Homo sapiens: one gene and its partner. The protein of the gene in region 2 interacts with the protein of the main gene of each other region in a biochemical or structural test. Each region holds a gene or a part of one and is shown on either strand. Other genes may lie near its edges.

Region 1 (3,819 bases), on a different chromosome or scaffold from region 2:
TGAAATGCTACACATAAACCTGCCTTCTTAAACTGAGTACCATAAGCAGCAATCTTTGGTAACTCAAGGCCATCACATTGTGAACACAGTGACTGCTAAGGGATCACTAAGCAGGGCTATCTATATACTCCATGGTCTTGAGCAATTGTTGAGTCTACATCTCCTAACTTTTCTCCCTTGACATAAGCTATCAGCTTTCATACTTCTAGAATGTCTGTCTCTAGCCACACGCTTGTCCCTCTCCCTTATGATGTTACTTTAATCTCCTGTGGTTGGAAAATCAGATTAATGTAGCATATAGCATGTAAAGTAACTGCCTACTAATGTTCAGGTAGTACACATCGATTTAAGAATTGCACACCTCCCATGAGTGGCCATAAGTACTATTGTTTTCCAAAGTTTCAAATTATTCTAGGTCTTCAGAAAAGAGGTGTAAATACGATTTTTAAAATGTCAATATATTTCAAATCTAAATTTTTGAAGAAAAACACTAATGGCTGACAGCCCTCTATGCACCATCAGTTAAAGACTGCTACTGCTAGAAACAGCCTACTCATTTTCTAATCCTAGCATCCCTGTGGCAAACGTATCAAATGGATTACCTGATTTTTTGAAAAGCTTTTCCAAAACATAATCGTCATTGCTCTGTTCCTTGGCCTCACTCTTGTTTTCACTGTCTTGCTTCTGGTAACGCCTTTTCTTCACCAGGTGTGGAATTCGAGTTCCTTCAAACTTGGCGTCTCTGCAATGCTTAGAGTTCTTAGGCTTTTGCTTTGGTCTCAGATGTTTCTCCAGGGTCTCTTCTTCTGCCACACTATGATGTTTTGTTTTTGACTTGTGCTTATAAAAATTATTTTCCATTTGTTTATTCTCCCAAAAAGCTTCTGTTTGAGCCTGGCTGGGTCTTTCTCTTTTGTAAGAAAGACCTAACTTTTCATCAATGCTTTCATCACCAGATGGCATAGAAGTTTTGCCTGTTCCTGAAGAATTTGAACATTCCCCATTTCCACTAATCACTGACAACTCTTCTGGTCCAGATACTGCATTTGTCTCTTCTCCAAGCCTATCATTGCTAGTTACATTACTACTCATGTGAGGGTCATCTTTCAAAGGATCACTTCGATTAGAAGTTACTGCATTTACTTCAGCTCCTTTAGCCTCAGATTTCTCTTCAGATGATGTGGCATCATTTACAGATATGTTAGAAGCAGGGAACTTCTTGCGTTTTGGAACATCATGGTCTGCTCCAAAGGCTGGTTGAATCCTTCTTTTTAGATGGCATTTGGGTGTCTGAACATCTGATCCAGTTCCTGTAAAGAGGAAAAACACCACTAATACTATATTGTATCATCTTGTGCAATTGATTACTTTAAATTAAATGATTTTATGTAATACCTGCAAAAATTGCACTTGTTTCAGTGCTCTGGGATGCATCAGGACTAGTCAGAGTAAATAGCTCATAGAGATCATTGGATTTGAAAAACCGCCTTTGTTTTGGGTCTTTTAGCACTCTATTTGTCAAAAACTGCTTGAAGATTTGTCTAAAAAAATAAAAGATAAGCTGGTATAAAACAATGTGTAGCTCTACCTAAAAATTCAAGTTATAAAGCAATATAAGAGAGAGATGATAACAGCTGCTGCATGAATGGCTAAATAATCCCCCAAACTTTCAGCCTTGGAAAATTACAATTCAGGAAATATATAATACATCAGTTAATCTCCCAGGTCTTGCAGAATTTAAATTAGAAATAATACCTTATTATTTACACCGAATGAGCTTTTTCAACCTCCAAGATCTAACACATTTCAAGAAACACCTTTTCACATGCCATCATGTGACTCATAGTCTCTCTTAGCCTCCTTGACTTGAATACCAAGGGTCCTGCCCTGCCTAGAACCTTCCTATCATAGGGCTCAGCAAACTCTCTTACCTGGGCTTTGCAATGTCTCCACTCTGACCTCTCTCTCCCTGCTCCCACCTGCAGGTCCACACTCTGCTGAAGCCCCACACCACTGCCACTCTGGAACAGGCACCTCCACCAGCCACCCTGTCCCTCCCTGTCATTTATTCTCCCAGCTAAAGCATGAATCTATAAAAGGAAGCTCTCTTCTCACAGGATCCAACTCGTCCTCCACCCTCACACAACACTCCCTCGAGGAAGATGTAATGTTCCAGGAATGGCCCAGCATGTGGTAAAGGGCACAGAGCTTCCTATAAAAGCTGGGCTATGGCTCAAGGATAAAGTCTGTGGTGGGGGAGTGGGAGAAGCTGGCAATGTCTTGATTCTACTGTTGAAGTTACCACTGTCTAAAATCCCCTAGTCATTATGGAAAGACAGAGGACGAAACAGCCATCCTGTCGACTTCTTTGTAAGGGGCATCAGAGTCAAAGACTGCCAGAACACCCACACTGATCCTACCTGCATAATGTGGTATGTAAACACCAATATGGTAACATTCAACCTTGTCATTTTTTAAAATTTTTCTGAAGGCAACACACCATAGCAGGCAGAAATATTCCTTTCAAATAACAATATGAAGTTTACATGTATGTGATTCTTGAGGTAGAATAAGGTACAAAAATTATCAGGTTCAAAGACATTTTTTGACAACTCACAGTAAGACATCTAAGCATATTTTAAAGGGAAAGAAAAAATACAAAACAAAAACCAAAGCCTTAAGTTATAGCAACTATTATTCTAAGATGTTAAGACTTTTAAAAACAACACTTTGGAAAAATTCCCTGCTCAAGACTCTGGGAACGCACAGCCAAGAGTGGCCACTGTGTGCACTGACCGGTGGTAGATCTTTTCTTCAATGGTGCCCGCAGTCAGGAGCCTGTACACAGTCACTTGCTTCTTCTGGCCTATTCTCCATGCTCGCTCCCGGGCCTGCAACAGAGAGAGAGAGACCTCTCAACGAGAATCCTTCCCAATGACAAGCACTGACTATAAGAAACAAAGCTAGCTGGTCACTACCTGTCACTCCCAGAGTTAGAATTTTGACTCATGACGTCAAGTACACCTAAGGCCTACTCAGGAAGATGAACAGCCAGTTGAAAAGACATCTCTACTTGAAAAAATGTTTGTAACTTTGCCTATGTTCTTTTTACCCCAACTCTAGGAATGAATGCTATGGATAAACTGCTGAAGATGGTTCCTGTCCATTTGACTCTGAAGGGTGTCTTCTTTCACGTTGAAGAACAGGAGACAATCAAAATGTGAAACGTATGCTGAAGCCAACCAGAACATCAAAGGACAGTCAAAAGCGCTAACCATGAAACTATATTTCTACTAATACATTCTTTTAAAAAAAAAATAAAAACAAACCTGCGTGTCCGTGCTTGGGTTCCAGTCTGGGTCATAGATGACAACTCTGTTTGCCCCCGTCAGGTTGACACCTAAGCCGCCCACCCGCGTGGTCAGAAGAAACACAAATATGGATGTGTCCTAGAGGTAAGACACACAACACTGAGCACACACACTTAAGACCAGTTACAGTTCTCAGCCTCTGCCTCCACATATTGTACACATGGAATTACTGGGCTGTTCCCAATATAAGGAATGGTAATGTCCTAGAGACCTCTGGTGAATCAAAATCTCATTTCACAGCTTTTACTTTTAATATTTAATAGAAATATTTAAAAATTGGGTTTTTAGGAGGAAAATACATGCTGTAGAAAACGCATTCTTTGTTTGAACATACACATGCCCACAATCCCCGCCCCCAAATATCCAGAAGTAGGGCATAGAGTTAAAAACAACAAGTCTCCCCTTAGGCCCCCTCCCAAGCCCAGATGTCAATGCTGCTTTGGTGGGT
Region 2 (3,819 bases):
CTGGCTGCCGCCATTTTAAGAAGTTGATAATCCAAACTGCGGGATTAAGTGACTTGCCCAGCAGCTAGAAAGTGGCAGAGCAAGGACTTGAACCCATGTCGGAAAGTCAGTGGTCCTAACCATAATGCATCACTGCCTGGGGTGAAGCCCTAGGGTCTAGTTTTTTTTTTTTTTTTTTTGTGCCAGTGCTGCCTGAGTGCTTTGAGAGGAGTTTCTGCCCACTTTGTGATTCCCAGAGGGTAGGATTCAATGAGCTACAGGAAACCTTCCAGCTGGGTGGGGTCTCTGCACATCCACACCCTTCAGCTTCAAGCCTCAGGAAGAAAGGAGCCCAGTCCCGGGTTCTTAGGGTTTCAAGGGGCCACCTGTACCCACAAAGAGGCCAAGGCCAACTTACCCTTCACCTTCTTGCTTTTGGGGATGGCATCTGCTGGGGGGGACCTTCTTTTAGCTATGCGCTTGGGTGACATCTTCCTGTCCTGAAAGTCAGTCAAATACTACATATGAGAAATGGCAAACATTTTCCTGGGCCAATCAGACAATATTTATCAAACACTCTAGAAATACGTTAAGAGGAATTGCCCAACAATTCCACTTCTCAAAATGTATCCCAAGAACAGAATAATGGATGCACCCACAGATTAATTACACAAATATTCTCTACTGTATCCTTCATAACATTTTAAAAACAACAAAAACAGAACCCGAATGTTCAATAGTAGTGAACTAAATATGTGGTATATTCATGATAGAACAGTATGAAGCCATCAAAAGTGATGTTTTCAGAGATCAATCTATTGAATAGAAAGATGTTCCCCATTGCCAAGTAAAACAAGCAGAATGAAAAACAGACGGCCAGGTGTGGTGGCTCACATCTGTAATCCCAACACTGTGGGAGGCCGGGGCGGGCGGATTACCTGAGATCAGGAGTTCCAAACCAGCCTGGCCAACATGGCAAAACCCCGTCTCTACTAAAAATACAAAAATTAGCCAGGCACAGTGATGGGCACCTGTAATCCCAGCTACTCAGGAGGCTGAGGCAGGAGAATCGCTTGAACCCGCGAGGTGGAGGTTGTGGTGAGCCAAGATCGAGCCACTGCACTCCAGCCTGGGCAACAGAGCCAGACTGTCTCAAAAAAAAAAAAAAAAAAAAAGCCTGGGCGCGGTGGCTCACGCCTGTAATCCCAGTACTTTGGCACTTTCGGAGGCCAAGGTGGGTGGATCACTTGAGGTCAGGAGTTCGAGACCAGCCTGGCCAACATGGTGAAACCCCGTCGCCACCAAAAAAAAAAAAAAAAATACAAAAATTAGCCAGGCATGGTGGTGTGCGACTGTAATCCCAGCTACTTGGGAGGCTGAGGCAGGAGAATTGCTTGAACCTAGGAGGTGGAGGTTGCGGTGAGCCAAGATCATGCCATTGCACTCAGCACTCCAGCCTGGGAGAAAGAGTAGTGAAACTCCACCCCCCAACCAAAAAAAAAAAAAAAAAAAAGGAAGAAAAACAGCCTATCATCCATTTTTTTTTTTTTTGGAAAAAAAATGCATACACAAAAAATATGTGAGAAAAATGTGGGGAAGAAAATATATCCCATATTAACAATGGTAACCTCGGAAAATGGTATTATAGATAATCATTACTTGTTTCGTTTTATCTTCCTATATTATCTAAGATGTTTAACAAGGAGCATTACATGTATTTTTCTGTTTTTTGAGACGGAGTCTCACTCTGTCGCCAGGCTGGAGCGCACAGGCATGATCTCAGCTCACTGCAACCTCCACCTCCCGGGTTGAAGCAATTCTTGTGCCTCAGCCTTCCGAGTAGCTGAGATTACAGGTGTGCATCACCATGCCCTGCTAAGTTTTGTTTTGTTTTTGTTTTTTTGAAATGGAGTCTCGTTCTGTCACCCAGGCTAGAGTGCAATGGTGCGATCTCGGCTCATGCAACCTCTGCCTCCTGGGTTCAAGTGATTCTCCTGCCTCAGCCTCTCGAGTAGCTGGGATTACAGGCACCCACCACCACACCCAGCTAATTTTTGTATTTTTAGTAGAGACGAGGTTTCACCAGTTTGGCCAGGCTGGTCTCGAACTCCTGATCTCAGTGATCCACCCCGCCTTGGCCTCCCAAAGTGCTGGAATTATAGGCGTGAGCCACTGTGCCCAGCCCAAATTTTGTATTTTTAGTAGAGACGGGGTTTCACCATGTTGGCCAGGCTGGTCCCAAACTCCTAATCTCAAGTAATCCACCTGCCTCAGCCTCCCGAAGTCCTGGGATTACAGGCGTGAGCCACTGCGTACAGCCGATTACATGTTTTTTTTTTTTTTTTTTTGAAGCAGAGTTTTGTTCTTATTGCCCAGGCTGGAGTGCCATGGCGCAATCTCGGCTCACCACAACCTCTACCTCCCAGGTTCAAGTGATTCTCCTGCCTCAGCCTCTGGAGTAGCTAGGATTACAGGCATGTGCCACCACGCCCGGCTTATTTTGTATTTTTAGTAGAGATGGGGTTTCTCCATGTTGGTCCCGCTGGTCTTGAACTCCTGACCTCAGATGATCCACCCACCTTGGCCTCCCAAAGTGCGGGATTACAGGCGTGAGCCATCGTGCCTGGCCACATGTATTTAAAAAATTTTTAAGTCTGTTGTAAAAAATTAAAACATTGAAGAACAACATTAAATGAAATATCCATCATAACTCCATTCAACCCCATGTAAGCACCAGTAACTTTGGTAATGTGTTGTTATAATCAGAGGGGGAGAAGAGCTATTTTCTTTTCTTATTTAATTGATTGATTTTTTTTAGAGACAAGGTGCCACCACACCTGTAATCCTAGCACTTTGGGAAGTCGAGGCAGGAGGATCGCTTGAGCCCAGGAGTTCAAGACCAGCGTGGGCAACATGGCGAAACCCCATTTCTATCCAAAAAATTACAAAAATTAGCCGGGCATGGTGGTGCACGCCTGAAGTCCTGGCTACTCAGGAGGCTGAGGTGGGAGGATGGCGTGAGCCTGGGAGGCTGAGGCTAAATTGAGCTGAGATTGTGCCACTGTACTTTAGCCTGGGCGAAAGAGACAGACACTGTCTCAAAAAAACAAAAACACACATGCACTGAAGATCGCGGCTGCTGTGGGAAGGTTACTCTGAGCATCAGTTGCCCGGCATGTGAGTGCCATTCCTTGGGGGCATTTCTGCCACTGCAGCCCTCAGGCCTGCTGCTTCTGGAAGAACAAGTTTGACAAACATATTGTGGTCTGGTTCCGGTCAAGCAAAATTCTGGTACCAGTTCCTCATACCATGCACCTGATGTCACCCAGCATGCGCCCTATTTTAAGGGTACAGCCGTGGTCAATGGAGAGTTCAAAGACCTAAGCCTTGATGACTTTGAGGGGAAATATTTGGTGCTTTTCTTCTATCCTTTGGATTTCTTTCTTTTTTTTTTTTTTTCCGAGACGGAGTCTTGCTGTGTCACCCAGGCTGGAGTGCAGTGGCACGATCTCGGCTCACTGCAACCTCCCCCTCCTGGGTTCAAGCCAATTCTCCTGCCTCAGCCTCCTGAGTACCTGGAATTACAGGCGCCTGCCACGACGCCTGGCTAATTTTTGTATTTTTAGTAGAGATGGGATTTCACCATGTTGGTGAGGCTGGTCTTGAACTCCTGAACTCAGGTGATCCACCCACCTCAGCCTCCCAAAGTGCTGGGATTACAGGTGTGAGCCACCGCGCCCAGCCCTATCCTTTGGATTTCACCTTTGTGTGTCCTACAGAAATTGTTGCTTCTAGTGACAAAGCTAAGGAATTTCACGATGTGAACTTTGAAGTTGTTGC

Evidence for each region.
Region 1: the proteins of RCC1 (region 2) and ERCC6 form a complex in vitro, tested with the Homo sapiens proteins (one large-scale study listed by BioGRID).

Annotation. Positions count from the first base shown.
Region 1 is NC_000010.11:49,469,580-49,473,398, forward strand, and holds part of ERCC6 (DNA excision repair protein ERCC-6), read right to left. Parts: intron 3,450-3,819; coding exon 3,330-3,449; intron 2,892-3,329; coding exon 2,797-2,891; intron 1,542-2,796; coding exon 1,396-1,541; intron 1,311-1,395; coding exon 603-1,310; intron 1-602. UniProt on the Homo sapiens protein: Involved in repair of DNA damage following UV irradiation, acting either in the absence of ERCC6 or synergistically with ERCC6. Involved in the regulation of gene expression.
Region 2 is NC_000001.11:28,526,518-28,530,336, reverse strand, and holds part of RCC1 (regulator of chromosome condensation), read right to left. Parts: exon of another isoform or gene 3,724-3,819; intron 3,404-3,723; exon of another isoform or gene 3,099-3,403; intron 480-3,098; 5' UTR 471-479; coding exon 398-470; intron 1-397. UniProt on the Homo sapiens protein: Guanine-nucleotide releasing factor that promotes the exchange of Ran-bound GDP by GTP, and thereby plays an important role in RAN-mediated functions in nuclear import and mitosis.